Homo sapiens: one gene and its partners. The protein of the gene in region 3 purifies or fractionates together with the protein of the main gene of each other region. This does not show direct contact. Each region holds a gene or a part of one and is shown on either strand. Other genes may lie near its edges. The genes, in order: CPT1A, PIP4P2, TBC1D9 and MRS2.

The links.
Region 1: the proteins of TBC1D9 (region 3) and CPT1A purify together in Homo sapiens (affinity purification with mass spectrometry; 2 studies listed by BioGRID and IntAct, with this or other methods). This does not show direct contact.
Region 2: the proteins of TBC1D9 (region 3) and PIP4P2 purify together in Homo sapiens (co-immunoprecipitation; 3 studies listed by BioGRID and IntAct, with this or other methods). This does not show direct contact.
Region 4: the proteins of TBC1D9 (region 3) and MRS2 purify together in Homo sapiens (affinity purification with mass spectrometry; 2 studies listed by BioGRID and IntAct, with this or other methods). This does not show direct contact.

The regions. Positions count from the first base shown.
Region 1 is NC_000011.10:68,775,905-68,782,932, forward strand, and holds part of CPT1A (carnitine O-palmitoyltransferase 1, liver isoform), read right to left. Parts: intron 6,056-7,028; coding exon 5,867-6,055; intron 4,842-5,866; coding exon 4,736-4,841; intron 1-4,735. UniProt on the Homo sapiens protein: Catalyzes the transfer of the acyl group of long-chain fatty acid-CoA conjugates onto carnitine, an essential step for the mitochondrial uptake of long-chain fatty acids and their subsequent beta-oxidation in the mitochondrion.
Region 2 is NC_000008.11:90,995,857-91,002,884, forward strand, and holds part of PIP4P2 (type 2 phosphatidylinositol 4,5-bisphosphate 4-phosphatase), read right to left. Parts: intron 889-7,028; coding exon 798-888; intron 1-797. UniProt on the Homo sapiens protein: Catalyzes the hydrolysis of phosphatidylinositol-4,5-bisphosphate (PtdIns-4,5-P2) to phosphatidylinositol-4-phosphate (PtdIns-4-P).
Region 3 is NC_000004.12:140,620,382-140,627,409, forward strand, and holds the end of TBC1D9 (TBC1 domain family member 9), read right to left. Parts: intron 4,008-7,028; coding exon 3,933-4,007; intron 3,839-3,932; coding exon 3,735-3,838; intron 2,537-3,734; coding exon 1,814-2,536; 3' UTR 401-1,813; downstream 1-400. UniProt on the Homo sapiens protein: May act as a GTPase-activating protein for Rab family protein(s).
Region 4 is NC_000006.12:24,405,931-24,412,958, reverse strand, and holds part of MRS2 (magnesium transporter MRS2 homolog, mitochondrial isoform b precursor), read right to left. Parts: intron 4,552-7,028; coding exon 4,515-4,551; intron 3,499-4,514; coding exon 3,386-3,498; intron 2,233-3,385; coding exon of another isoform or gene 2,160-2,232; intron 738-2,159; coding exon 564-737; intron 1-563. UniProt on the Homo sapiens protein: Magnesium transporter that mediates the influx of magnesium into the mitochondrial matrix and regulates magnesium metabolism. Also permeable to calcium, sodium and potassium ions.

The DNA of each region.
Region 1 (7,028 bases), on a different chromosome or scaffold from region 3:
CACACAAAAACTTGTACAGAATGTTCAGAGCAGCATTATTCATAATAGCCAAAGAGTGGAAACAACACAAATGCCCATCAACTGATGAAGAGATAAACAAAGTGTGGTCAATCCATACAATGAGATATTATCCAGCCCTAGAAAGGAATGAATTCCAGGTATGTGTTACAACGTACTGAACCTTGAAAACATTATGCTGAGTGAAAAGAAGCAGGCAGGCGCGGTGCCTCACTTCAGTAATCCCAGCACTTTGGGAGGCCAAGGTGGGAGGATTGCTGGAGGCCAGGAGTTCCAAACCAGCTGGGCAACATAGTGAGATCTTATCTCTACAAGAAATTTTAAAAATTAGCCAGGTGTGGTGGCACATGGCTGTAGTCCCAGTTACTGAGGAGGCTGAGGTGGGAAGATCACCTGAGCCCAGGAGGTCATGGTTTCAATGAGTCATGACTGTGCCACTGCACTCCAGCCTGAGCGACAGAGCAAGACCCTGTCTCTAGAAAAGAAAGAAAAGAAAGCGAAAGAAAAGAAAAAAGAAGCCAGACATAGAAGACCACATATTGTATGATTCTATCTATATAAGATGTCCAAAATAGGCACATACATACACACAGAAAGATTAGTGGTCATCAGGAACCTGGGGGAGAAAGGAATGAGGGATTTCTTTTGGAGGTGATAAAAATAGTACAGAATTAGGCTGGGCTCTGTGACTCACGACTGTAATCCTAGCACTTTGGGAGGCCAAGGCGGGTAGATCACTTTAGGTCAGGAGTTCGAGACCAAGCTGGCCAACAAGGGGAAACCCCGCCTCTACCAAAAATACAAAAATTAGGTGGGTGTGGCGATGCACGCCTGTAATCCCAGCTACTCGGGAGGCTAAGCAGTGACTGTTGCACAAGCACCTCGTGAATATACTAAAAACCACTGAATTGTACACTTTTAAAGGGTGGATTTTAAGGTATGTGACTTATATCTCAACTAAAAAAATTAAGTTTTTTTAAAAGAGGAATCCCTGTGCTCAGGAAGCTTACATTCTAGTGAGGGAGGTAAAAACAACAACACAAGGTCGGGGTGACTGTCGGCTGGCGAGGCGGCGGGGCGGGTGGAAGGTGCCGCTAATACGTGGGGGTCACAATCCAGGCTGACCTGAGCCAGCGAACGAACAGACTTGATCAGGTTCCACCTGCTCTGGGTCAGAGCTCCAGAAGAGCCTGACACAGAAACATCAGAAATAAATCAAGAGCAAGACCGGGTGTGGTGGCTCATGTTAGTAATCCCAGCATGTTGGGAGGCTGAGGCAGGCAGATTGTTTGAAGCCAGGAGTTCGAGACCAGCCTGGGCAATGTGGCAAAACCCCGTCTCTACAAAAAATACAAAAATCAGCTGGGCGTGGTGGCGCACACCTGTGGTCCCAGCTACTCGGGAGGCTGAGGTGGGAAAATTACTTGAACCCAGGAGTTGGAGGTTGCAGTGAGCTGAGATTGCACCACTGCCCTCCAGCCTGGGTGGCAGAGCAAGACCCTGTCTCAAAAAATAAAAAATAAAAATAGAACAAGAACAAGAACAAACAGACTCAAGTTTGACTAGATCTGTCTTTAAGGGACTGCACTGGGCCCCCATGTGAGACTAGGTCAGTCCCCATCTGTGTATGGATCACATAAGCCCCCAGCCAGGGGTCCCTGGAGTCAGGCCATCCTGTCTGCTGGACGCTAACAACTAAACACCACTACTTCTACGTGCCCACCCTGGTCTAAGATAAAATCCCTTTATCCTTATCCAGAGAACTTTAAAAAACAAGCCTGATCTTGTAAATATCCAGTAGATTTCTCTACTTGATAAATGTACCCTGTGTGATCCAGCTGCCTATGGTCCCGACTCTTTTTCTTTTGCCAAACAACAGCTCTTAGGCATATAGGACTCGGGAAGTCCTTGGCCTGGGGTATAACAAGCCCGGGCTATTATGCTGTGCAGAGATTTATTAAAGCGTGCCTTCTTGCTACGTCCAGAGACACTGAAGGCAGCTTGATCTTCAATGCGCTCTGTAGCTAAAAGGCTCTCTCAGCTTTTGTCGACATCGCCAAAGAACCCTGGTGGTGGTGAAAAGCCCTTTTAATATTGGCTGCTTTTTATCAGGTATTAATGTCCTAGGGTCATACTGGTGTCTTAAAGCCTAGAGCACTATGTTTTTTTTTTTCCTTTTTATCCTTTTTCCTACATAGAAAACCTCCCTTGGCTGAAGGAGTGGCTGGAGGTTTTGCCAAGACTCCAACCAGAAGTAAGACAATTAAAAGAGGTAGAGGAAGATGAGACAGGAGCCCCTAACCTAGTCTTGGGAGAGGGTAGCAGGGCAGTGCCATTCCTAGGGGAAGTGAGGTCAGCTGAGACCTAAGGAAGACCTGACGGGGCCAGGAGCCAGGGGAAGCCAGGGGGAAAAGCCTTCCAGGCAGAGAGGAGAGTGAGTGCGAAGACTTTGCAAGAAAAAACTGGCACCAGAATTTGTTTATCTCTTGGGGGAAAAATAGACAGACACAATATTATAAAAAGAAACGTCAAGGCCAGGCGTGGTGGCTCATGCCATAATCCCAGCACTTTGAGAGGCCAAGGCGGGTGGATCACTTGAGGTCAGGTTTATATATATATAAAAATTATCCGGGCATGGTGGCATGTGCCTATAATCCCAGCTACTCGGGAGGCTGAGGCAGGAGAATCACTTGAACCGGGGAGGCAGAGGTGGCAGTGAGCTGAAATCGCACCACTGCACACCAGCCTGGGTGACAGAACAAGACGCCATCTCAAAAAAAAAAGTCAAAATTCAAAACATTCACAGAAGTTTAAAGAAAAAAGAAGGTCATACATTATGATGTCTTCACAAGTTTACTACTAATTTCTTTCTTTTTTTTTTGAGATGGAGTCTCACTCTTTCGTCCAGGCTGGAGTGCAGTGGCGTGATCTCGGCTCACTGCAAGCTCTGCCTCCCGGGTTCACGCCATTCTCCTGCCTCAGCCTCCTGAGTAGCTGGGACTACAGGTGCCAGCCACCACGCCCGGCTAATTTTTGTATTTTTAGTAGAGACGGGGTTTCACCGTGTTAGCCAGGATGGTCTCGTTCTCCTGACCTCGTGATCCGCCTGCCTCGGCCTCCCAAAGGGCTGGGATTACAGGCGTGAGCCACCGCGCCTGGCCACTACTAATTTCTAATTTCAGACACACAAACCCGGCTCCATGCCCTATCAAGAACAGCGAGGTGCTCAGCCTGCAGCTGGGCCCTGTCTCCCACACACGCCGTGACTTTCAGGTCATTTTATTCCACTTCATTTATTAGGCCAGCAGGAAAATTTAAAACACTGCAAAAAGATGGTCTTTATAGTCAATGTGAATCTCAAAGGGGCTTGTTGCTTTAAAAGAAAAAGATCTCAAGTCTCATCACAACAAGTGACCACAGTATTTTCTGTGTCAAGTCTACGGATGATGATCCTAGAATTTAGCAACTTTAAACAAGAACCTGACCGGTGAGTTAAGGAAACAAAACTTTCATTTAATTTCTCATGCCAAACACGGAACAGGTCAAACAGTTCAGAGTAACGAATTATTAAAAAAAAAAAAAAAAAAAAAAGGCTGAGTGTGGTGGCTCCCATCTGTAATCCCAGCACTTTGGGAGGCCCAGGCAGGCAGATCCCCTGTGCCCAGGAGTTCAAGACCAGCCTGGGCAACATGGGGAAACCTTGTTTCTACAAAAAATACAAAAATTAGCTGGGCATGGTGGCACACACCTGTAGTCCCAGCTACTTGGGAGGCTGGGGTGGGAGAATGTCTTGAGCCTGGGCGGTCAAGGCTACAGTGAGCTATGATTGTGCCACTGCACTCCAGTCTGGGTGACAGAGTAAGACCCTGTCTCAAAAAAAAAAAAAAAAACAATGGTAGAGGCCAATCCACAGGTGCAGGCAGGGGGACAGGGGTTTGTGGTTTTCAAATAACCTGGTAATTTTAAGAATTAAAATGATGTCTTAGGTAAAAGACACGCTGCATGTTTATAAACCCAGATTTTCACATGCTTGCTTCTATTTGGCCTAAAAAATGCGGTAGGTAGGAAACACTAGGAAATCCAGCACATAAGGGATAGTTTATTCCAGGAAAAACCGAGCTTCACTTCTGCTGTGAAGCTGCGGCCTGAGAGTCAACTGCCATTTCACTCTTTTGTTCCCTAAGGAGATGGCAGGAGATGCACTGCTGTTCAAGGGACCTAAGTTATGGGAAAGGAAGACAGGGATGCCTTTAATCTAGTGATTTAACTTCATGTGCATTACTAGTACAAGTGAAAAATTCATATTCTATAATCACGCAAATATTACAAAACTAAATTGACTGTGGGGTTTGGATTATCTTTTTTGTTTTTTCTTTTTGAGACAGAGTCTCGCTCTGTCGCCCAGGCCGGAGTGCAGTGGCACGATCTCGGCTCACTGCAACCTCTGTCTCCCGGGTTCAATCGATTTCTTCTGCCTCAGCCTCCCAAGTAGCTGGGGCTACAGGCATGCACCACCATGCCCGGCTAATTTTTGTATTTTTAGTAGAGACGGGGTTTCACCATGTTGGCCAGGCTGGTCTTGAACTCCTGACCTCAGGTGATCTGCCCGCCTCGGCCTCCCAAAGTGCTGGGATTACAGGTGTGCGCCACTGCGCCTGGCCAGGTTTGGATTTTCAAAAGCAACTTCCACATTCAAGTGAAAAGTGTGAAAACTCACCTCCCAAAGGTGGGCCACGATCGGCGCATCTGCCCAGGAGTGTTCAGCGTTGAGGCCCATCTTCCCGTTTTTGAAGACAACAAACGTGAACGACTTGTCAAACCACCTACGTGAAACACACATGTGTGGAACTTAAGTGTTTAAAGAGGCAACAATGAGGAGACATTGCACCTCTCTGCTTCATCCTGGATGGACTAATTCACTTTGCACCTGTCCCTCTAACAGTGAGCAGACACTCAGTCTCTGTGGAGTGAGGGTGAAAGTACAAACAGGACACTGAATCACTCATTTCTTCCCTGTCCCAGACACAAAGATGAGCGCTTATATCCTGGCAGCCTGAAGTCAGGACCTGTTGTTATCGCAAGGCAACTGGGGAGAGGTGGGAGGCTCTTCCCGTGGGCACATGACCCCTTCATCAGCCAATCCTTGGCTCCACCCTGCAGGGGGCGGGGCTGGCCAACACTTTACAGATAAGAAAAAGAGGACTTGAGATAGCCACATGCCAACACCCTGGCCTAACCCTGTGCCTAGCCCTGTTTGCCACTCTCCCCTGCCTGAGTCCAGGGACCTGGCAGCCCTGCATCTCATGAGCATCTCCAAACAAAGGTGGTCATGCACAGAGGAGGGAAGAATCTCAGATTTGCAGCTCAGGCTGTGTATGTGTGATAGTTTTGGCAGAGGGAAGAAAACTGAAGGTTGGCCAGGCGCAGTGGCTCACATCTGTAATCTCAGCACTTTGAGAGGCTGAGGTGGGTGGATCACTTGAGATCAGGAGTTCATAACCAGCCTGGCCAACATGGTGAAATCCTGTCTCTACTAAAAATACAAAAATTAGCCAGGCGTGGTGGCACACGCCTGTAATCCCAGCTACTTGGGAGGCTGAAGGAGGAGAATCGCTTGAACCTGGGAGGTGGAGGTTGCAGTGAGCCGAGATCAAGCCACTGCACTCCAGCCTGGGTGACAGAGCAAGACTCCATTTCAAAAAATAAAATAAAATAAAACTGAAGGTTATATTTTTATGCCACCTTCTTTCTTAGCATTATAGATACTTAGGGGTGAGTGTCAGGCACACAGGGTATTTCTTCCAAGCTCATGGGCAAACTCCTGTCTCTCAGAAGGTAAGGACGGTACCTGTCGTAACATCGGCCGTGTAGTAGAGATTTGGCGTAGCTGTCCATTGACGTATCCGGGTCTTCACTTCTGTATCCTTCTTCAGTTTCATCTAACGTCACAAAGAACGCTGCTTTCTCCACAGCATCAAGAGACTGCTTATTTTTCCCACGTCCAAAATAGGCCTGACGACACCTGGCCCAGGGAACTCTGCAGTGAAGATGAAATACGATTAAAGGCAGCCCGACCTGCAGCGATGGAGCGTGATGTTTGAAATGACACAATCAAACCTTTGCAGTTTTTCAGAATTTCTCGAAGGAAAACTCCATGTTGATGATGTTCCCCATCTGAGACTGTTTGCTGGAAGGACTCTCACCTGCTCCTGGTCTCCAGACCACAGCATGGGGAGCGGTGGGTATTTTTTGTTCAATAAATGCTGACTAAATGAACGGCCAGATTGCAGGCTGGCCCCGTGGGCAAAGCCGCCAGGAAGCAGCAGACCCAGATCACCCTGTTCCACGCTCCCTGACACACCCTCCCTCCCCTCTACAGGAACCACCCTAGGTAAGTTCCGGCAGCCCAGGTCACAGTAAGTGCGTAAGAGTGCGTCCCTCATGCCAGGCTCTGCTCCAAACCTTTTCTGTGTACCAACTTACTGATCTTCTCAATGCTACTGTACCTATTTTTCAGATGAGAAAACTGAAGCACGGAAAGATTAGGTCACAGCTATTTTGAGGCAGAGTCGGAACCCAGGCCATCAGCCCCCAGGTGCATTCCACAGATGCCCATGTGACCCCTCCACAAGGAGGTCTCCGTGCCCGTCTTATTTGAATACACAGAACTGGTGTGATGCCCACTTCCTTCTTGGAAGACCCACCAGCTGGGCTTCCTCGAGTGCTCCCGGGTCCCTCTCACTCCAGCTCCTCCAGGACCCTCTGCCACTGCCCACCCTTCCAGATCGGGGCCATCTGGCTCTCTCCCCACCTTCTTCTCTCTAGGAGTGCTTGGCTATGGCGGCCCGCAGGGCGAATAAGCCTAGAAACACGCTAGGCCTCAGTGCACCCCGCTCGGGGAACAAAGGTGACGCTGACGGTGGCCGGCACGTACGGAGCCCTTCCTGTGAATGACTCCCATGGGTAAGATGCTGATCTGGCCCTATCCAGAGGGGGCATCGGGACCGAGG
Region 2 (7,028 bases), on a different chromosome or scaffold from region 3:
AACTTTAAAAAATATCTGCTTAGGGAACTTGTATCAGCTTACATGTGATTGTTATGAAATATACCCCCAGACCGAATACACAAAGTCCTTATAAGAGTAGGTGTATCTGTTGACTGCAACTGATAGACCATACTGCTACTTGTAGTAACTATAAATGTTATGAAGTAAACAAAAAAGCACACTAAACTATATTATCTCTACAAGGAATTTAATCCATGTAACTTCTTACTATCATGGGACACAATAGGACATTGCTAATAATAAGGGACTAGTTGTACTGACAAACAAAGGAGCATGGAAATGGCAGCCAAAGAGATTATCTTCCTCTTCTGGCATAATCCCCATGCTAACTGCTTAGCTCCAGTCTTCTCTAAAAACAAGCCATCCTCATATTGGTAATAAATCTCTGCTTGATTTGGATAAAGAGAAGAGTGGTTTTTTTAGATCTCTGTAGCTGAATGAATATTGCTTTGAATAATAAGAGACCCCATAGCCATAAAAATTAGTTCTGGCACTGATTTTTTTTTAAATGGGCTTTTGCTAAATAGATGATAAAATCCCCAACAGTAAGGACTTTTGGAGGTAAAAAGACACCGTTTCACTTGGATGGGCGAGTTCAATCAAAAAGAGGTCCATGGATTGGGTTTCTGATTGCTCATAATCATTCAGAAGCTTCTAGTGCTGGCATGCCAAGGAGGCAGCCTCTTCAGGAATCCCTGAAGGTTGTCCCAGGCCTCATGATTGACTACTGATAAAGTTGAGAGGACAGAATTCTAACATCAAAGTGTAACACTCACAGTTAACCCAACTCCAATGAAAATACATATCATTCCAATGGTAATATATGCACAGCAGCGTCTTCGTGGAAGTGCACTACCCACTGAGGAGCTGCAAATTCATGAAAGCAAAAGAGAACATTAAGTATTTACATAAAAATTCTCTATTTCATTTTTGTGAGTTCTTATCTATGGCTTTAGTAATATTATATACTTTTTATTCATTGCTTCAACTTTACAGACAAGAACATGCATTAAACATGTCATTTTTAATGGGTGACAAAATCGTTCAGGGTGAATTTGTGATATTATTGTGGCTTTAAACAAAGTTCAAGCCTTGGTCATTGATAATATCCACAGAAATCCATTGTAGTACCTACTAATCTCCCAAGATAAAAGTTTATTTCCAAAAAAATCTATTTCAGAATGGAAAAACAGCTATCTTACAAATAGCATTTGATTTTTTTACAGTTAAAAGAGTATGTGTTTATGTAAAAAATTTAGAAAGTAGAATAAAAAGGAAAGAAACAATGAAGAAAAAGGAAAGAAAAAATTACCTATAATCCCAATATCATAAAATAGTCACTCAGTATTTTTGCATACTTTCCTGTAGCCAATTTTGTACCTTACCAATATATAGCATGAACTTTTTCCCATAATATTCTCAAACTAAAATTCTGATGGATGAATATAACATAATTAAAAAATTTTCTACTATTGTACATTAAAGTATCTTCATTATTATACATAATGCCAACAAAGTATCATTTAAAAGCATTGTGCTTATTTTTAATCATTCTTAAGATTTTTAAATTTAGAATTAGGATTACAAATTAAAGGGATTAAACTTTTTGAATTGTTTTTAATACATACTGCTAAAAGCCCTCTACTGTGCTACTCAATTGAAATTCCAAATCTAATAGTATTCACCCTCTCTGTATCTAATTGTGGTAATTTTCAAAATGATATAAGTTATAGCAGAGATTAGTAGCCAAATTAGCACTTTCTTCTCTGTCTTAACGTACATATATTTATTACTATATACCATATGCAAGGCATCGTGTTAGTGAATGACACAGAAGTATCTGATTCACCTTTGTGTGGCCAGTGTCAAGATTATGCCTAACACATAATAACCTCTCAAAGAATGTCTGATGAATAAGTAAAATACAGAAATTCATCACTTACTAGGCATGATTTAGAAACATGTGATTCCAAATAGGTTAATTTTGCATACAAAATTATTTCCTTTAATTTCCAAATCTTTTTGAAAAACTGATGAAGTTTTTTGCAAATATACATCGTAAATTTTCCTGGGTACTTGAGCCCAAACACAAACATCTGGATGACCTGGGGACCACCATTAATTACTATATTGTACAGCTTGCTATCTAGAGTTACTAGGGCATGCAGGATTCATTGCTTTTATGTAACATTTAGCCCTAGTCTATTTTTGGTTTTAATTTCTATGCATCCACTGGTGGTTTTTCTTGCCTTATACATCACATCTGGTTGTTGTTTCTTATCACTGCCTGTGCATCTGCATTTGGCAGTTTGTAATATACCATTTATTAGAAGCCAACTAAGCTTATTAAAATTATGTACTGAATAAGTCAAAAGTTTCTAAGTGAATATTAGAGCGGCTTTTCTGTGAGCCAAGAGAATACACTTTAGTACATTAATTTCAGTGCATGAATTCTGCTTAGAAAACCTGTGCTCTCTTTTCATCACTCAAATTAAATAGTCACTACATCTGAGAAATCTTCTCTGAAAAAAATAACCTACTGCTACTCCACAACTCAAGTGCCATCTCCTCACAGGATAAGGCAATGACCAACAAGCACTTATTAATCATAAAATCTCTTACATATTTAGTACATATGTGGTATCTACATGCAATATATATTACTGGTACAAAAACAGACACACAGATCAATTGAACGGAATAGAGAACCCAGAAATAAGGCCACACACTTACAAACGTACAACTATCTGATCTTCAACAAACCTGACAAAAACAAGCAATGGGGAAAGGATTCCCTATTCAATAAATGGTGCTGGAATAACTGGCTAGCCATATGCAGAACATTGAAACTGGACTCCTTCCTCATACCAAATTTAAAAATTAACTCAAGATGGATTAAAGACTTAAATGTAAACTATAACATTTATAGTTATATAGGTTGCCTGGAGGACAACCTAGGCAATGCCATTCTGGATATAGGAACAGGCAAAGATTTCATGATGATGACACCAAAAGAAACTGCAACAAAAGCAAAAATGAACAAATGATATCTAATTAAACTAAAGAGCTTTTGCACATCAAAGGAAACTATCAACAGGGTGAACAGACAACCTACAGAATGGGAGAAAAATTTTGCAAACTATGCATCTGACAAAGGTCTAACATCCAGCATCTATAAGAACTTAAACAAGAAAAAAAAACCAGCCCATTAAAAAGTGGGCAAAGGACATGAACAGACACTTTTCAAAAGAAGATATACATGCAGCCAACAATTCTATGAAAAGAAGCTCAACATCACTGATCATTAGAGAAATGCAAATAAAAACCACAATGAGATACCATCTCCCACCAGTCAGAATTAATACTACTAAAAAGTCAAAAAATAACAGATGCTGGTGAGGTTGTAGAGAGAAAGGAACGTAACATTCAGAAATTCAGAATACAGAAGTTTAAAAATAAGTTTATTTTTCTAGCAGATAAAACTTAAAGGTAAATGTACAGCCTAGGGTTGGTAGTCAGCTGTACTCCCTGATTGGTATTGCCAAACTCTACACAGGTAACAACATTCCTGCCAGTTGGCTTTTCCACTCAATTCAAAGAGGAGAGAAAAAACGAAGACAGGCAATTTTGTCTTTAAGGAGAGTATCAGAAAACTGTACTCATCACTTTTGTTCACATTCCATTGGTCCTAACTTAAAGATGGCCACACTATCTGCAAGACAGGCTAGGAAATCCATCTCTAGCTGAGTGGCTAGTCAAATTCAGAGGTCTACTAATAAAAGGAAGGAGAAAACAGCAGTCTCTGTTATTTTAATTGATATTAACATTACATTTTAATGTTGGCTAGTGTTTGCCTGGTATGTCTTTTCCTTTGGTTAGTGATTTATGGTTGTATCTTTTTCTATCCTTATACATTCATTCTATGTTCTAATATTCATGTGTTCCTTCCTCAAATTGTATATAGCTGTTCTTACATCTAGTCTTACCATTACTGTTAAGTTTTACTAGCAAGATTAGTCTAATGATATACATGGACTATTTCTGACACCTTATTTTGGCTTTCTACTATTCCTGTATTTTCTGCTTTTCTACCTTTATTTCCAGACTTCTTTTATATTGACCATGACTCTTTCATTTCATTTTCCTCTTATTATTCTGAAAGTTTTACAATTTATTTCATTCATTTGGCAGTTGCACTTAAAATTTTAACTTTCATATGTTTTAAAAACTAAAGTCAATTATTAAATCCATCTTCCTGATAAATATAAAGATTTTAGAAAGTTTTAACACCAAACATTCCACTAGCATCTTAATGCTACTGTTTTCCAATATTTCAGTTTTATTGTATTTTTGTTTCTCAAAACTTATTAGCATTAATATAATTGGTACTGTCGTTTTGGCTATTTTATACAGTCAGTGTTTCTGGTGAATTGTTACAATTTCTTGGTTTACCTTTCCTTCCTGCACTGCAGAAATTTCTTCTGGAATATTTGTTCATATTCCCTAGTTCATCATTTAGCAGTTTTTTTTTTTTTTAGTAAGGGTACCAGGATGGTAGATACCCTGGGTTTTGTTTGTAAGTTTGTTGGTTTTGCTTTTGAAAATATACTTATTTTACCTTCATTATTCTTTGATGGTTTAGATAGGTGTATAATACCAGTTTGACAGTTAATTTCTCTTAGTATTTTTGATGTATTTTAAAACTTGTTTTCTGGCTTCTATTTTTGCTGTTGAGACATTTGCTGACAGAACTGTTATCTTTTTCTTATTGAAAATATGCCTTTTGTCTCTCTGCTTTTAATTACCTTCTATTTCTCTTAGGTTTTCTACAATTTCACTGTAACACATTTACTTATCCTGCTTGGATTTCATTGTTCTTTTTGAATATAAAAATTCATATCTTTCATAGATCTGAAAATTATTTGAGATTATCTCCTAAAATGCCATATCCCATTCTTTATTTGTTCCTTCCAGATCAGATATATAATTGGCATCTTAATAATATATTTTCTCTTAATCTTACATTCATCTTTGTCTCTCTATGCTAGATTCTGGGTAATTCACTTACCTCTATCTTCCAATTCACAACTTTAGTCTTCACCTTTAGCTGATCTGTTCTTTAAACCGTACGTGCATTTTAATTTCTGTAATAATTTCTAGAAGTTCTATTGTTTCTTTCTATATCTATCTGGTTATTTTTTGCAAATTTCTATTTGAGACAATTATAGATTCACAAGCAGTTGTAATAAATAACACATAAAAATACCATGTACGTTTTGCCCTATTTCCCCCATAGTAAATCTTGCAAATTATAATACAATATTATAAACAGGATATTAACATTCATATAATCCACCAATATTCAGATTTCTCAGGTATATGAGTATGGATTTTTCTTTAATTTTATGCAATTTTATCACGTTTAGGTTCATGTATCTATTGCCACAGCTAAAATAGAGAACAGTCTATCACTGTAAGGATCCTTTTATAACCACACCCTCCTTTCTGCCCATCCCGCACCCTGTGCCTGCCACACCATCATTAATCTGTTCCCTATTTCTACAATTTTGTCATTTGAAAAATGTTACATAAATGAAATCTTACTGCAGGTAACCTTGTATGGCTAAGTTTTTTTTTTTACTCAGCATAAATTCAATTCATCCAAGCTGTTGCATGTGTCAAATTTGCTACAAACACTCACATATACATTTCTGTGAGTACCTGGTAATTTTTAAATAGTCTTACATGTTTTCTCTTATTTTTATTTTAAAACATCTTAGGCATAGTTTTAACATACTCCATATTTAATAATTATAAATCTGAAGTTTTTAGAGGTCTAATTATGCTGTTTGTTGTCAATGTTGATTATGCTTCTGGAATCTTGTTTTCTCCTATGACTAGTAACTTTTGTTGAAAACTTATTTTGGCAGATCTCAATATAAAAAAATTTTGGCATGCATAGTTTGGGGGTGCTTTCCTACATACAGAACTTTCATTTGCTTTTCGCAGGCTCCCTAGACTGATACTAACCCTAAACTTTAAGTCAGTTTCTGGAACTAGGTTTTCCTAGATCGCATAAGTGATATAAAAATATAAACCTAAATTCACTGTTCTTATAAATTTTTTCCTCTGCAATCTTCCTTTTCTGGTTGATTTCTTTTTCCTAACTCACTCTTTTCCAGGGGAAGAGTACTTTAAGTACTTTATTGGGAGGAGGCAGTATTCTAACCCCGCTACCTTGTGTGAGGCCAATGCCTTCTCTCTCATTCTTCCAAGGCTGTAGATCCCTAGTGTTGGCATATACCTTCAGGATAGTCCTGGTTGTCACTTAATCTTCATTTTTGGTCCCCAACTGTCATATGAGCTGAGCTATGCATTTAAAAGGATGATTTTTACAGCTAATTGGTTTTTTATATTACTGCATGTGAAAGTCAAGGGCATATACAAAAATGTGGACAGTGAATCTCCAAGCTGAAAAGACCATTCAATGCTCTCAAACATCTAACTATTCACTCTTCAAATTATTAATCTTTCGCTTCACAAAAACACCTTATGAAACACTAGGATTATGAAGAACACCTGGAAAATGGTAGTGTAGCTAGTGCTACAGGAATTTATAAGGGGAAAAGGCGGCAAACAATGTTCTTTACATTACAATTTTCAGACAAGGCAGCCAGGGATGGCTTTATTACACAAGACTTAAGGATAGCTTAAAATGTGAATAGATGGGGGAGTAAGTCATTTCAGCTGATTACATTAGAATTGTTCAGGTGTGAAAAGAAAATTTGTTCAAGGAATAAGCAGCAGAATAACCTTTGTGCCACAGAATGTTTCTACAGATGAAGAGTAGAAGCAAGGGATGTTTCAGCTAATTTTTTAGGTTAAATAGGTGTTTTCTAGGTAGACAAGGGCAAGGAAAGGAGTAGCCAGGCCATTCTAGGTCTAGCAGGATAAGACTCAGGAACAGAAGAAAGAAACTGCATAATATGTTTGTGGAAGTAGAAGTG
Region 3 (7,028 bases):
TTGAACTAAGGTACACTCCCACCAACGGTATATTTGTGTTGTTTACTTTACAACCTCGTCAACATCTGTTCTTTTTTGACTTTTTAATGACTGGTGTGAGATGGTATCTCATTGTGGTTTTGAAGACAGACATGCAACCAACAAGCATATTTTAAAAAGCTGAATATCACTGATCATTATGGATAAGCATTTTAAGTTAGATAACTGATAACAATTATATTCCTTATTTTAAATATAGTCATTGATATACTACAAATTGTATTTCTCTCTCTATGTTTGCCTATAAAATTTATTTACTTAATCAAAATGGTTGCCTGATATAATTTCCCCTGCAAAAGTTGTCAAAAGAATAATGTTATTGCCTTAGGCAGGAACTCAAGCACAAAGATAAAAAGCTGTATCTGAGTATTTGCTGTATTTTATTTGTTCACATTTAGCCTATTTGAGGTTAACACTACTTCATTTGACAGTTTAAAAATCATCCTGTAAATAGAATAAAAAACAACAGCAGCAATAGCTAAAAAAAGGACACAATGTATAATAAAATAAAGGAATGTGTTGAAAGAAATATTCCAAAGAAGCAAAGGAAATGAGACCATGATTATGAATTCAACAATCAGAAGAAAAAATCGTCCAACATCTGTAAAAAGCAAAATCATAACAGTAATAAAAAAGAAGCAAGAATTCAAAGTGCAGGTGCGCTAGCTTTCATTTCCACATCCATTCAGGAAATAGAGCATACTATTCTTTTATATAAAGTGACAAGTTCTGTTTTTAAAACATTCAGTTACATTATCTTGCAGATTTTTTTTCAGTTTACATTATCTCTACATTGATTTGATGGAAAGATGGTCATATGCGATATGTGGTATAAATTTCTTCAATCTATGGAGAATACGGAAATGGTAAAGTTGACTGTTTTACTTATGTTTTTGCAGTAAGAAGCTAAACATCCAGTATCAGAAGCATCAGTACTTTTACTCTTTCAAAAACAAAAGCAAAGCAAAAGCAAAAACCTGTCATGAGCCCTCTGTCTTTGCTGCTACTTTCAGATTCTCTGTGACAAAAGACTGTTACTTTTCACTGAATTCTAATGAGTTGACGTAAATAATCAGAACAATTTCTTAAATGCAAAATTGGTCTGGTATCTGTCTAAATTGGTCAATACAAGTGTTATTCTGGAATCATGTAAAAATCACTTACTTTCATAACTGTTTAGAACCCCAAATGTTTTCCCTTTGAAGGGGAACATCTGTGGAATATGATTTTGAATAGAGGACTTCTATGAAATATATTTCAAATCTTAAAAATATTTTTAATACTTCCTAAAGTGGTATAGGATTTACCCTCGCTGACTATGCCTTCCATTTAAGAACAGTCTTGCATTTGTGGCTTTTCATTTTCCTTACAGCTCTAATTTTATTTAAAAAGCCTGAATACACAAATGACTGCTGCCTTACTTAGCATTAAACAGTACTATTTTTTAAACCATGTATACAGCTCAACAGCAAGATTAATAAGTTATAATACACACATATCACTGACAGATTCATCTTTTTGTTTTTTAGAATTCACGAAATAAACTGTATTCTGGTAAATCCCCTCCCCGCAACAAGAGTGTAATGTACCTACATTGAGGTGTTTAAATATTTCTCCAACAGTTTTCATTGAATTACATTATGAAAACACTAGGCTTCAAGCCAGGTACTAATAAATATTTAATTTAAAAGAAAGAAAGAAAAAACTCAACACAGAAGAACATAAAAAATCCCTCCCCTCCCTCTCCTCCCACTCCCCCGGGAAGGCGCCCGTGTCAGCCGGACATGGCCGAGATTTCATAGTCACTGGCCGAGGTGAGGGGCTTGCCCATCATCCGGATGTTTTTTGCACTGGTAATCCTGGCCATCATGCACACGGGCTTGTCAAAGTACTTGACCAGGGCAGGCTCAGTTAAGAGGGAGGCCAGGAACTGCTCGAAGGTGATGGCCCAGTCCCGGTCCAGGCTGGTGCTCCGGGGCAGTGCCGCCGTGCCCTGGCCGCTCCGCACCAGGACCGTGTCCTCTCCGATGTCCTCGCAGTGCAGCTTGTCCTCCTCGTGGGAGCCGGCACTCAGCACCGAGTATGAGGACATGGAGCTGTCGTCCTTGGTGTCGTCGTCAGAGATCAGCATGGAGGAGCAGGCCCCGTTGTCCCGGGGCGAGGAGTCCTCCAGCTTGATGTCCTCCATTTGTCCTCCAAGGGAGTGTTCCTCGCTGTCGGGGGCCAGGCTGGCCGGCAGGGGCTCAACAGACTCCACCACGTAAGGCTGGCCTGGCCCTTTCTTGGGGAAGAGCACGCCTGGGATGCCCTGGTGGCAGGACGGCCCACTGCCTCCGCTCCCGCCCTCCTTTGCAGGCTGGGCCACGAACAACTTGCCGACCTCCCCAATCTCCAGCAGGAGGCTGGTCACTGCTGCCGTGGCGTGGTACAGCTCCTGCTCATTGGGGTCTTCGCTGAACATGTTATACATTGTCTTACACAGTTCAATGAACTGCCCCTGAAAAGCGATTTGGAAAAACACAATGTGAAATCTTGGGGGAGCAGAAAGGCAGCACTGAAGTGGACTGTAAAGCCATTTAAATGAGAACGCCTAAAGATCCCTGGAAAGTCCTCCGCCTAGGCTGGATGGACATGTTTAAAGTCTCCTATTGATGTTTCTATTTTTAATTTTTATTTCTTTTTGAGACAGGGTCTCTCTTTGTCGCCCAGGCTGGAGTGCAGTGGTGCAATCACGGTTCACTGCAGCCTCAACATCCTGGGCTCACATGAACCTCCCACCTCAGCCCCCCAGGCACACACCACTATACTCTGCTAATCTTTGCGTTTTTTGTAGAGATGGGGTTTCGCCATTTTACCCAGGCTGGTCTTGTACTCCTGGGCTAAGTGATCCTCCTGCCTTGGCCTCCCAAAGTGCTGGAATTACAGGTGTGAGCCACCACACCCAGCTTATTTTCCCAATTTTTTAATTTGAAAATTTTCCAACATCTATGAAAGTTGGAATGAAAAAGTAAACATCCATGTACAGCTCACCTCGAGTCAAGAAGGACTATGTCATACATTTGGCTCAGTAACTTTTTTCTTGTTCTCTTTTCCCTTTTTGAAACATCTTAAGGAAATCCGAGACTCATCTATTTTCACGTCTACACACTTTAGCATGCACCTCAATTTTTCCAAGGTTAGCTCCAATCCCTCCTCCCACGACACATGCCCCATCTCCCTGGACAGAAGTAATGCTTTAGTGCTTTCAGTCTCCACCCAGATGACTTCTGTTCTTCAATTACAAAACTTAGCATTTTCAGCCTATAATTATTTATATTGTTTTTTTCTTCCTCATTTCACCAGGTTTTTAAGGAAAATGTGCAGACACCTTTATAGCTAAGCACGGTGATCTGAAAACAGCAATGTGTTTGTCTTTCGAGTATCTGAGGGTATTTTTAATGATTGCAATAAGATGCATTTACTCTCAAAATGGAATATGTTGTGGTTCACATTTCCTCTGAGGAAGTCGTTTTTTCACAATGGAGCATATTTTTGATGCATAAATACATGCACAAAATAGGTCCAAATGGATACTAAGTAAAGGCCCCAGTTATTATTTTTGATGGGTATTGAGTCTACATTTATCGATGACTTTTCAGTCATAGAAAAAAGAGTGTCCAGGTTTGAAGCGAATGATTTGAACTTTAAGCACTTACCTGATTTAATTTGGGTAAATCCTTTGCATTCTTTGACTTAGATTTATTTTCTGGAGTCCACAGTCTCAAATAATTACGATTTTCTTGGGAATTTGCTCTCTTCCCTACAACCCAAATGTCAAGAAATAAGTGCTTACAGGCCAAAAAACAAGTGTACAACCAGCAAGAAGGTAAACATATAGAAGAGAATATCCTTACCTTTGTCTGGCTTTAGGCTCACCGTAACAAAGCCATCATCTGCACCCTGTTTGCTTCTGCTATCCAATCCAACAACTACCAAGAAATGGTTCAGAAGAAAAAAGTAGAATGTTATATAATATGACCATGGAATTAGCATTTGTAGTGGAAAATAGAAGACTCTCTAAGTAGGGTTGCCTGATTTAGCAAACAAACAAACAAAAAAAAACTCCTCAAAACAAAACAAAACATTCAGTTAAATTTCAATTTCAGATAAACAACAATTTTTGGGGGGGATAAGTATAACCCTGACATTAGAGGGGACATACTTATACTAAGAAAATTATTTTGTATCTGAGATTCAAATTTTACTACATGTCCCATAATTTTATCTGACAACACTATCTCCAGGTAAAGGACCTCCGCAGAATTCTTTCTCACAGCTGGGGTTCAGTGTACAATAAAAAATTAATGGAGGGTCAAGCAGCGTGGCTCATGCCTGTAATCCCAGCACTTTGGAAGGCCAAGGTGGGCAGATCACCTGAGGTCAGGGGTTCAAGACCATCCTGGTCAACATGGTGAAACCCTGTTTCTACTAAAAATAGAAAAATTAGCCGGATGTGGTGGCACATGCCTGTAATCCCAGCTACTCGGGAGACTGAGGCAGGAGAATTGCTTAAACCCAGGAGGCAGAGGTTGCAGTGGGCTGAGATGGTGCCATTGCACTCCAGCCTGGGCAACTAGAGCAAAACTCCATCTCAAAAAAAAAAAAATTAATGGGATAATGCCACATAGCCTTTAGTACTTAAAAAATGGTAGTGCTTGCCCCAATGAATGTTGATTTCTCTCCTGTCTTTTCTACATTATCATTTAACTTTGCATATATGAGACAGATTTTTTTTGCCAGACCCTGCAAAAGATCCAGAACTCACTCTTTCAAGGAAATTAAAATCTATGTTGGCAGAAGAGAGAAAATTTTTTTTTTGCTAAAATGTTACATGCTATAAAACTACTTCAGATTTATAATTTGGTACTTCAAAAATATGACTTTTAAGGAACCCACTTATAACTGTTTTGTCTTCTTAAAACGAGACATTACAGGGCACATAGGGACTTCAAAATAGAGAGGTGTACAATGCCCTCAGTTTCCCATGCAGTTTGTTGGCTGTTAGGGTGCATTCCAGCACTTCTTCAACCACCCAAAGCTGGCTGGTCAGACAGAGATGTGGCCTTTACTGTATTACGTGTCAAATTAATCTCAGTAGCTTTTAAGACACAGTGAGGAAAGTGTACTATGTGTTGTTGGGAAATTCCTCCCCTCTTAATGTTGAAAATGATGTAGGCAACAAGTGGATTTTTAAAAAATATTTAATGTATGGTAAGTCCATGCAATGGATACTATATAGCCATTTAAAAACCACATTTTCAAAGAAATTTTAATGACAAAGTAATATTCTCACTGGATTTCAAGTAAAAAAAGCAGGATACAAAACTGTATAGGTAGTTTGATCCCAGTTCTATATACATATATCTGTGGTGTGTATGTGTACAATTTGAATAAAAAACTGAAATATTTCAAGGTGAATTATTAGTTATCTTTATATGGTAAGATTCTAAGACAGTTTTGGCTTACTTATTTTACCCGTACCTGAAACATTTCCATGCAAAGCAATAGCATCTTTGGCACTGGAAAACCTTCTTCAAAAAGCATATTTCAATGATATTACATGCTATTGGCATGTGACCATTTCTGAAGCATTTCTAAAACAAGAGAATCCCTTTCTGAGATGTATGTCTACTAAGAAATGTGTGGAGAACATTTTGTAGCCAGAATGTGACTGCTAATGGTATTAGGTTGGTGAAAAGTAATTGTGGTTTTTGCCATTACTTCCAATATATAATATTAAGAATATGTAGGATGCACTAAGACACTATGCAAAATGTCTTATTACATTCTCTTATTAGGTCCTAATTACACCCAATATGATAGCTATCATCTCCATTCTCCACACAAGGAAACTGAGGCTCACATAGGAACCTGCCTGCACTCACCTAGACAACACTATACATAGCTAGTGTTCTGTCCAAAGCTCCTACCCTCAACTTGTATTGCCAGTCATAAGACTGAGCCTGGCTCACTCTCTCTACAGAAATCACTTTGGTGCTTACAGTCTAAAAGTAAGGTCTCTTGGTGCAGGTCTCTGTTGTGCTTATTTGGGGATGGCAAAACTTAAGAGGCAAAAGAACCCAGGAGAAACCTACATTTACTTTTGGACTTAGGTGAGTTGATAAAGTTGACCTAATGATGAATTAGAAGGTAACTTACTGCAGTAGCAAGCCAAAAGACAATGCTAGATTAATGTAAGACAAAACAGTATATGAATTAATATATAAATTTGGAGACATATATGAGTTGAATCACATCTTTGTAGACCTATCATCCACAGAGAGCAGGAGCCAGCATATGTCTTTTGTAAAGGACCAGACAATGAATATTTTAACCTTTGTAGGTCATACTGTCTCTGTTTTAGCCACTCAATTCTGCAGCACGAAAACAGCCATAAGCAATACATATATAAATGAGCTTGGCTGTCTTCCAACAAAACTATTTATAGGCACTGAAGTTTCTATTTCATATACTTTTCATGTGGCAAAAATATTTTACTTTTGATTTTTAAAAACCATTTAAAAATGTAAAAAACCATTCTTAGTTCACAGGCTGTAAAAAATAGGTGGTGGGCTGGATTTGGCCCACGGGCTATAGTTTGCCAACTTCTGCTATAGAGCAAACACAGATATAAGAGAATGCTTTCTGACAGAAATGCTAGTTCCAATTCTGGATGGCTGCCTAACAGGATATTATTAATGAGGCTGATCCTGGCAGAAAGAGGGCAGCAAAGTATACAGCTCTATAGGACACAAGTTTCCTAACCTACTGGGAAACAATGTACATGTTTCCTTCAGTGGGCTGAGGTACCTACTGCCCAATAGTTGCCTAATCTCAAAAACTGGAAAGGAAAGTAACCAATTAAGGCAACCATATTTACATACTTCTTTGATTGACTAGCTTTGGAGGCAAGTCTTTTTCCAATAATGGAGGGCTCGGTAGAAAACAAA
Region 4 (7,028 bases), on a different chromosome or scaffold from region 3:
TCTCCTCCTCCCACTCTGGTTAGTATGCTCCCAGCACCAACTCTTGCATGTAGCCAGTTCCTGAACAGTACCATCCTGACTTAACAGGAGGAAGAAAAGATAATGAAAGATTTGTGGGGTCAGGGAAGCAGAGAACCACCCTTGTTTAGAGCCTGACAGGAGTCTCAGACATCTAAGGACTCTTAATTTAAAGGAGGAGTCACTGGAAGAACTGTGCGTGATTCCTATGTCAATCTAGGTCTCAAAAAGATGCATCATTTACCTGGCTCAAACAAAGGATTGTACAAACAAATCAAAAAATGACTTGATGAAATGATTTAATAAAATAATTATCACATGTCAAGCATTTTTATAATATACATAGAGTCTTTAGTTCTATTTGACTGGGTCATAACATTTAAGAATTAAGTGATATCTCCATGTAGGATCCTTAGAGACGACTTGTTTCGGGGCAGGATGTGGTCAGGGGACATGCCATTGAAACAATACCCCAACTTGTCTTCCCACTCAATGACATTTCAAAATCAGAATAAACCCAAGAAGCTAAATAAAAACAGACTTACCCAATATTGCAGGAGTGCTTCTATAGCTCTAAACTCAAAAGGTAAAGGGTATGTAACGAGTTGACCCTCTCCAGACAACTGTGAAGGGAGTTCCCGGAACAGCCATTGCTCTAAGTTTAAATTACGATAATCTAATATCAGAAGACACTCTGGAGTTATCACAGCTTTCAAATACTGTTAAAAAAAAAAAAACCAAAACATATAAATATGTGAGTGTATATACACACATGCATGTATATACATATATATGTATACATACATATATATATGCAAATTGTAGAGCTGTAGGAAAAAAGAACATTCATAAAATTTGGTTTAATACTTTACTAATTGTGGATTAAGACTAAACCAAATCAGTGTTCATTTTTGTTTTTCAAAAAAATCAAGGTTTTTTTTTTCAAAAGAAAAGAAACTTAAAAAATATATGTCTTGATACTGCTAACTCACTCTCAATAAAACTGGAATTATTCACATAAATTATATATTTACTAAGACTTCTGGGGTAATCATGAAAAAAAAACAAAAACAAAAAAAAAAACACCAAAAAATACCCCCAGAAAGCCGGGCATGGTGGCTCATGCCTGTAATCCCAGCACTTTTGGAGGCTGAGGAAGGTGGATCATGAGGTCAAGAGATCGAGACCATCCTGGCCAACATGGTGAAACCCCGTCTCTACTAAAAATACAAAAATCAGTTAGGCGTGGTGGCCCACACCTGTAGTCCCAGCTACTTCAGAGGCTGAGGCAGGAGAATCGCTTGAACCTGGGAGGCGGAGTTTGCAGTGAGCTGAGATTGTGCCACTGCACTCCAGCCTGGCGACAGAGCGAGACTCCGTCTTTCTTTTTTGGAAAAAATAAATAAATAAATAAAGGGAACAAGATAAGGTCTTCCTAAAAGTCAGGTATTGAGCAGACTTTTAGAAAAGATTTAGTTTAATCATAATTAGTTTGGCACAAATGGAAGTTTCCTTTTTAAAACACCACTAAAGCATATAAACAAAATCTGAAATTAAGATGAAACATAGCCTTACTACTCTAATTTAGAACAATATGAAATTAGAATTTTTTCTAAAAAGACTGGTTATCTTGTATGTTAAAAGTAGATAAAGGTAGCCACTTTATCAGTGATATAGAAATTAGAGATAATTTTCTATTTTTACATTTTTCCAACATTCTATCATGAATTTTTTTTTCTTTTTTTTTTTTGAGATGGAAGTCTTGCTCTGTCACCCAGGCTGGAGTGCAGTGGGGCAATCTCGGCTCACTGCAACCTCCACCTTCAGGGTTCAAGCTATTCTCCTACCTCAGCCTCCTGAGTAGCTGGAATTACAGGCACCCGCCACCATGCCTGGCTAATTTTTGTATTTTTTAGTAGAGACGGGGTTTCACCATGTTGGTCAGGCTGGTCTCGAACTCCTGACCTCAGGTGATCCACCCCTCTCGGCCTCCCAAAGTGCTGGGATTACAGATGTGAGCCACCACAACCTAGCCTCATGAAAATTTTTATACAGAAAAGTTGAAAGATTGCAGTGAACACCATATACCCACCAGTTAGATTACACAATTATCATTCTGCTGAATTTGCTTTTTCACATACCTGTCTGTCTCTCCATGAAAGAGACACTGTTTTGAAGAATGCTAGCTACTGATTCCAAGAGTAGAGAATATTTCTGAAGAAAATCACATGGGAGAAGACTGCTTCATTTTTGATAAAGTATTTTTTATTTACTTATTTATTTTTAGAGATGGGATCTTGCTATGTTGCTTAGGCTGGTCACAAACTCCTGGTCTCTGGTGACCCTCCCACTTCAGCCTCCTGAGTAGCTGGGACTAAAGGCACATGCTACCAATACTGGCCCATTTTTTATTATTTTGATTAGTTCTAGAAAAATGAACAAAAATCTGCCATCAAAGACTCTTTGAAGAAAGTCTCATACCCACTACAGGGCCAATACCATTCATCTATTTTTGAACCTAAACATTAGCCCACCAAAATAACTGAAACCCACATTAACTCTGAATCACTAAAGAAAGTCAAATTATTATTTGGCATGCTCTGAATAGGTAAGGGAAAATACAATATATTTCAGAAAGTTTTCCATTAAAAAAATTTAAACTGGCCAGGCACGGTGGCTCATGCCTGTAATCCCAGCACTTTGGGAGGCAGAGGCAGGTGGATCACCTGAGGTCGGGAGTTTCAGAGCAGCCTGACCAACATGGAGAAACCCCATGTCTACTAAAAATACAAAATTAGCTGGGTTTGGTGGCTTATGCCTGTAATCCCAGCTACTCAGAAGGCTGAGGCAGGAGAATTGCTTGAACCTGGGAGGTGGAGGTTGCAGTGAGCCAAGATCGTGCCAGCCTGGGCAACAAGAGCAAAACTCCATCTCAAAAAAAAAATTAAGGCTATAAAATTTAATGTCTATTCCTGTGCTATTTAGAAAGCCAGAATACATTTTTGGTAGCTCAGGTTATACTATAATTACATGTAACTGTACACAATTGGATATATATCTATTATAAATCAGGATTGTCTTATAGTTTCCAGAACTAGAGAGTAAATCCCAACAGTGAGAATGAACACCACAGTCAGAGCTTTTCCAACTTAAAACACAGCAGTGTTATGCCTATTGAACATGTGCATATAATCCATATAAAATGAGTTCTACTCATAATAGCATATTAAGCTATAAAACATCCTATGTTTCAGGTAGCTATTTCTATTCCAAAATTACTTTTAACCTAGATACTAATCAAGATAGTTAGAAGGTAACTTTTATAAGATTGTATTGGAGAAACATAGATGAAAATAAAATATTTTACCTCCATTCTCATGATAATCCTATTGTTTCTGACTGTGATACTCATTACATGCTGAAATCTCAAATCTCTGGCTTGAAGACCTAACTCTTGGTATAATTCAGTTTTCTTCCTTTCTATAAAAGAAATAAACAGAGAGGGCTAAACCAAATACATTAAATGGCTTAGATTTTTCCATCAGAGCAGTCCTCCCACCACCATCAAGACAATTTTTGGTTACTACCAGAAACAAAAACTAAAATTAAGTCTTTTAATATCCATTTTTACCTAGAAAACATACTCGGGCTAAATAGAGTCAAACTAATGATTTTCTTATCTATACCTCATAACTTTCTCACTACTTAGAAGACCCTTGAGACTAATACAGAAACCACAACTATGCATCATTAGAACCTATAAATGTCCAGCTCTAGAGACAGGTTATCTCTCTTAAATATAAACTGTACACAACTATATTTTCTATTTTTACTACAACATCATCTTCAGTATTTTATATATGTGAACAGATAAGCTTGATTTTCTTTGTTCTTAGACTAATACAAAAATGAGAAAAGCTGAATTTATTACCTGAGACTGATTCATTCTCAAGGGAGATGTGAAACTCACATCTGAAGTCACACTGTAAAGTAATGCCTAGTCTCACTTTTTAAAGTAGCTGTCCACAGAGAGCCATCAGCAGCAGAGTTCCATGTGGCTGCCATGCAGTGACATGGCCCTGTTCATCTTTTGTCACCCACTGCAATGTCAGTGGTATTATGTGACTCTGCCTTAAACATGCTTCAGGAGAATGAATGAGGGCAGTGAAAGGGACGCCAACAAGAGAGACAAAAGAGAAAAAGAGTGTGTCTCTGGGCTCCAGTTCTACACCAGCCTCTGCTCTCCCAAATATTCCTTCAATAGCCTGTTAGAGCAAAAAGTGGCTCCTGCTAGAAGAAAACAATTCTGGGAGAATACACACAGTCTGAGTATTGCCAGCTCCAATTAAGACTGATGGACAAATGCTGAAGAAAGATCTCTTTCAACACACCTGTATATGCAAAGAATATTTTACTCAAAATACTACAATTTCTTGATTTCTATCAGATTCACTCATTAAATGTTTAAAAAATGATTTAGAATGCTAATCACTCACCAAAAGAAGTAACGTTTCCCTGTTTGTCAAATTTTGTCTGAAAATAGAGAATAAAACAAATTATGATTTTCTTTCAAATTAGAATGCTACTTATGGTATTGCTAATTTAGTTAAGAATTTATGGTATTGTAAGTAATATCCCCAAAATGTTGAAATGCAAATATAAACCATTACTGACCTTCTTTAGATTAAATCCAGTTATGAGTTAAGGGTTTTTTTAAAATCCTTTTTTCCTTTGATAGGAAAAATCAGACCTGGGTTTAACTTTCTATCTTGGTTCCTCTAGAAAGTTGATAAAGGAGTATCAGTTGTGTTGTTACTAGGTAACAATCCTTATGGTAAAAATGACCATTGACTGGTAGACTGCACTGGACTGGGAAGACGAACAAATTACAGTTATCAGGTGAAAAGCAATAGCTCTCTTTGCCCTTTCCTGATTGTGGTGGCTCTTGTGGCCATGTTCCCAGCCAGAATCCTGGACACTGTGCCCCTGCGATGGTTACAAGGGATACTGTCACTACGGGGCATGGGGATTCGAGCCAAGATGAATCTCACATCCACCTTTGAGAATCTTATCTCCTTGTCACTGAGCGATCACTCAGAGGACCAGAGAAGCCCCTGGATGGCTGCAAAGACTTCTTTTGAAGAGGAAACACCTAACACTACCCTGTTGTTTCTCCTGTCCCTTATCCTTCTGAGTAGACTGGGACCAAGTATGGCCCGCCTTGTGAATCTAAATGTCTACATGAGGCCAAAGTCTCTTTGGTGGGTGTTGCAGAATCAATAAAGATTTACAGAACCCCTTCTGATAGTTTGAAGAGAGGATTTGATACAGAAAATGCACCTATTTCCTGCAAAGTAGGGGACTATCTTTCAGTGATGTTTATCCACAGTCAAGTTTGAAGCTGTGAAACATTTAATGAATCACTATGTGCTGAGCTGTACTACTTACTACGACAGACACATTTCAGAAAGACACTCCAACATACAGGTTTAAGTACAATATAGGTCTTGGGTTACTACCATGGAAATATACATGCTGTGTTAATCACACAATAAAAACTCACAATATATATATTTTATCTTGCTTCTCATCAGCAAAAATAAAATTAATATGAATATATAAGTTCCATAGAACATTAAAGGAAAATTTATATCAAAGAAAGCTTTATATTTGTGTAATAGTCTAGCTTTCAGCCTTATATTTCACAAATACATAAACCCACTGCAGAAAATTTGAAAATAAATATACGTAACATAAAACTATATTAATCACCTGAAATGACAAATTTTAGAGAAAACCATGTCAATATTTCACTGAATATCCTTCCAAACATTTTCCTAATAAAACATACTTATACATACTGCTTTGCAGTCTCCCTCCTTCCAAATTAGCAACATATGCTGAATATTTTTGCATCTCAATATTTATATGTACCCTTTTTTTCTTTAATGGAACTTAAAAAAATTTTTTAAATCATACAAATTATAAAGAAAAAAATATTTACTTTGTAACCAGCTCACTTTCTAAACTATTTCAAACAGCACAAATTAAATTTTTCTTTCTCAGATTCCATAGCTTTATGAATTTCTTAAGTGTTCTTTGCAATTATTTCACCTGCAAAGAACTAACTTTCAGTATTTCACGTTTGACTTTGTATTCTTTTTTTGAGACAGAGTCTTGCTCTGTTGCCCAGGCTGGAGTGCAGTGGTGCAATCTTGGCTCACTGCAACCTCCACCTCCCAGGTTCAAGCGATTCTCCTGCCTCAGCCTCCTGAGTAGCTGGGACTACAGGCGTGCACCACCACGCCTGGCTAATTTTTTTGTTTTTTAGTAGAGACGGGGTTTCACCATGTTGGTCAGGCTGGTCTAAAACTCCTGACCTCAAATGATATGCCCACCTCAGCCTCCCAAAGTGTTGGGATTACAGGCGTGAGCCACCGTGCCTGGCCCTGATTTTGTATTCTTAACTAAATTGGCCAACTCTTCCAGAACAATGAATAACAGTGGTAACTTTTAAACGCAATTCTGGGGGTTATTTAATTTTATATAGTTTATAAAGAAAAGCTCTTATGTTAACAAGCCTAAATAATCCTAATGAAATATATTTGAGGCTTACTATATGTGAGGCACTAGTTTAAGGGCTTTCTATATATGAGTTAATTTAATCCTCATAACAATTCTATATGGTAGGTTATGCTCAGTTTTCAGATGAGAAAACTAAGGCACAAAGATGTTATTGTAACTTGTCCAAGGCCACCTAGTCAATAAGAGGCAGAGTGAGATTGGAATTTAGGAAGTCTGGCTCAGAATAGGCACACCTTTTTTTTTTTTTTTTTGAGATGGAGTCTCACTCTGTCTGCCAGGCTGGAGTGCAGTGGCATGATCCAGGCTCACTGCAAGCTCCGCCTCCTGGGTTCATGCCATTCTCCTGCCTCAGCCTCCCAAGTAGCTGGGACTACAGGCGCCCACCACCAGGCCTGGCTAATTTTTTGTATTTTTAGTAGAGATGG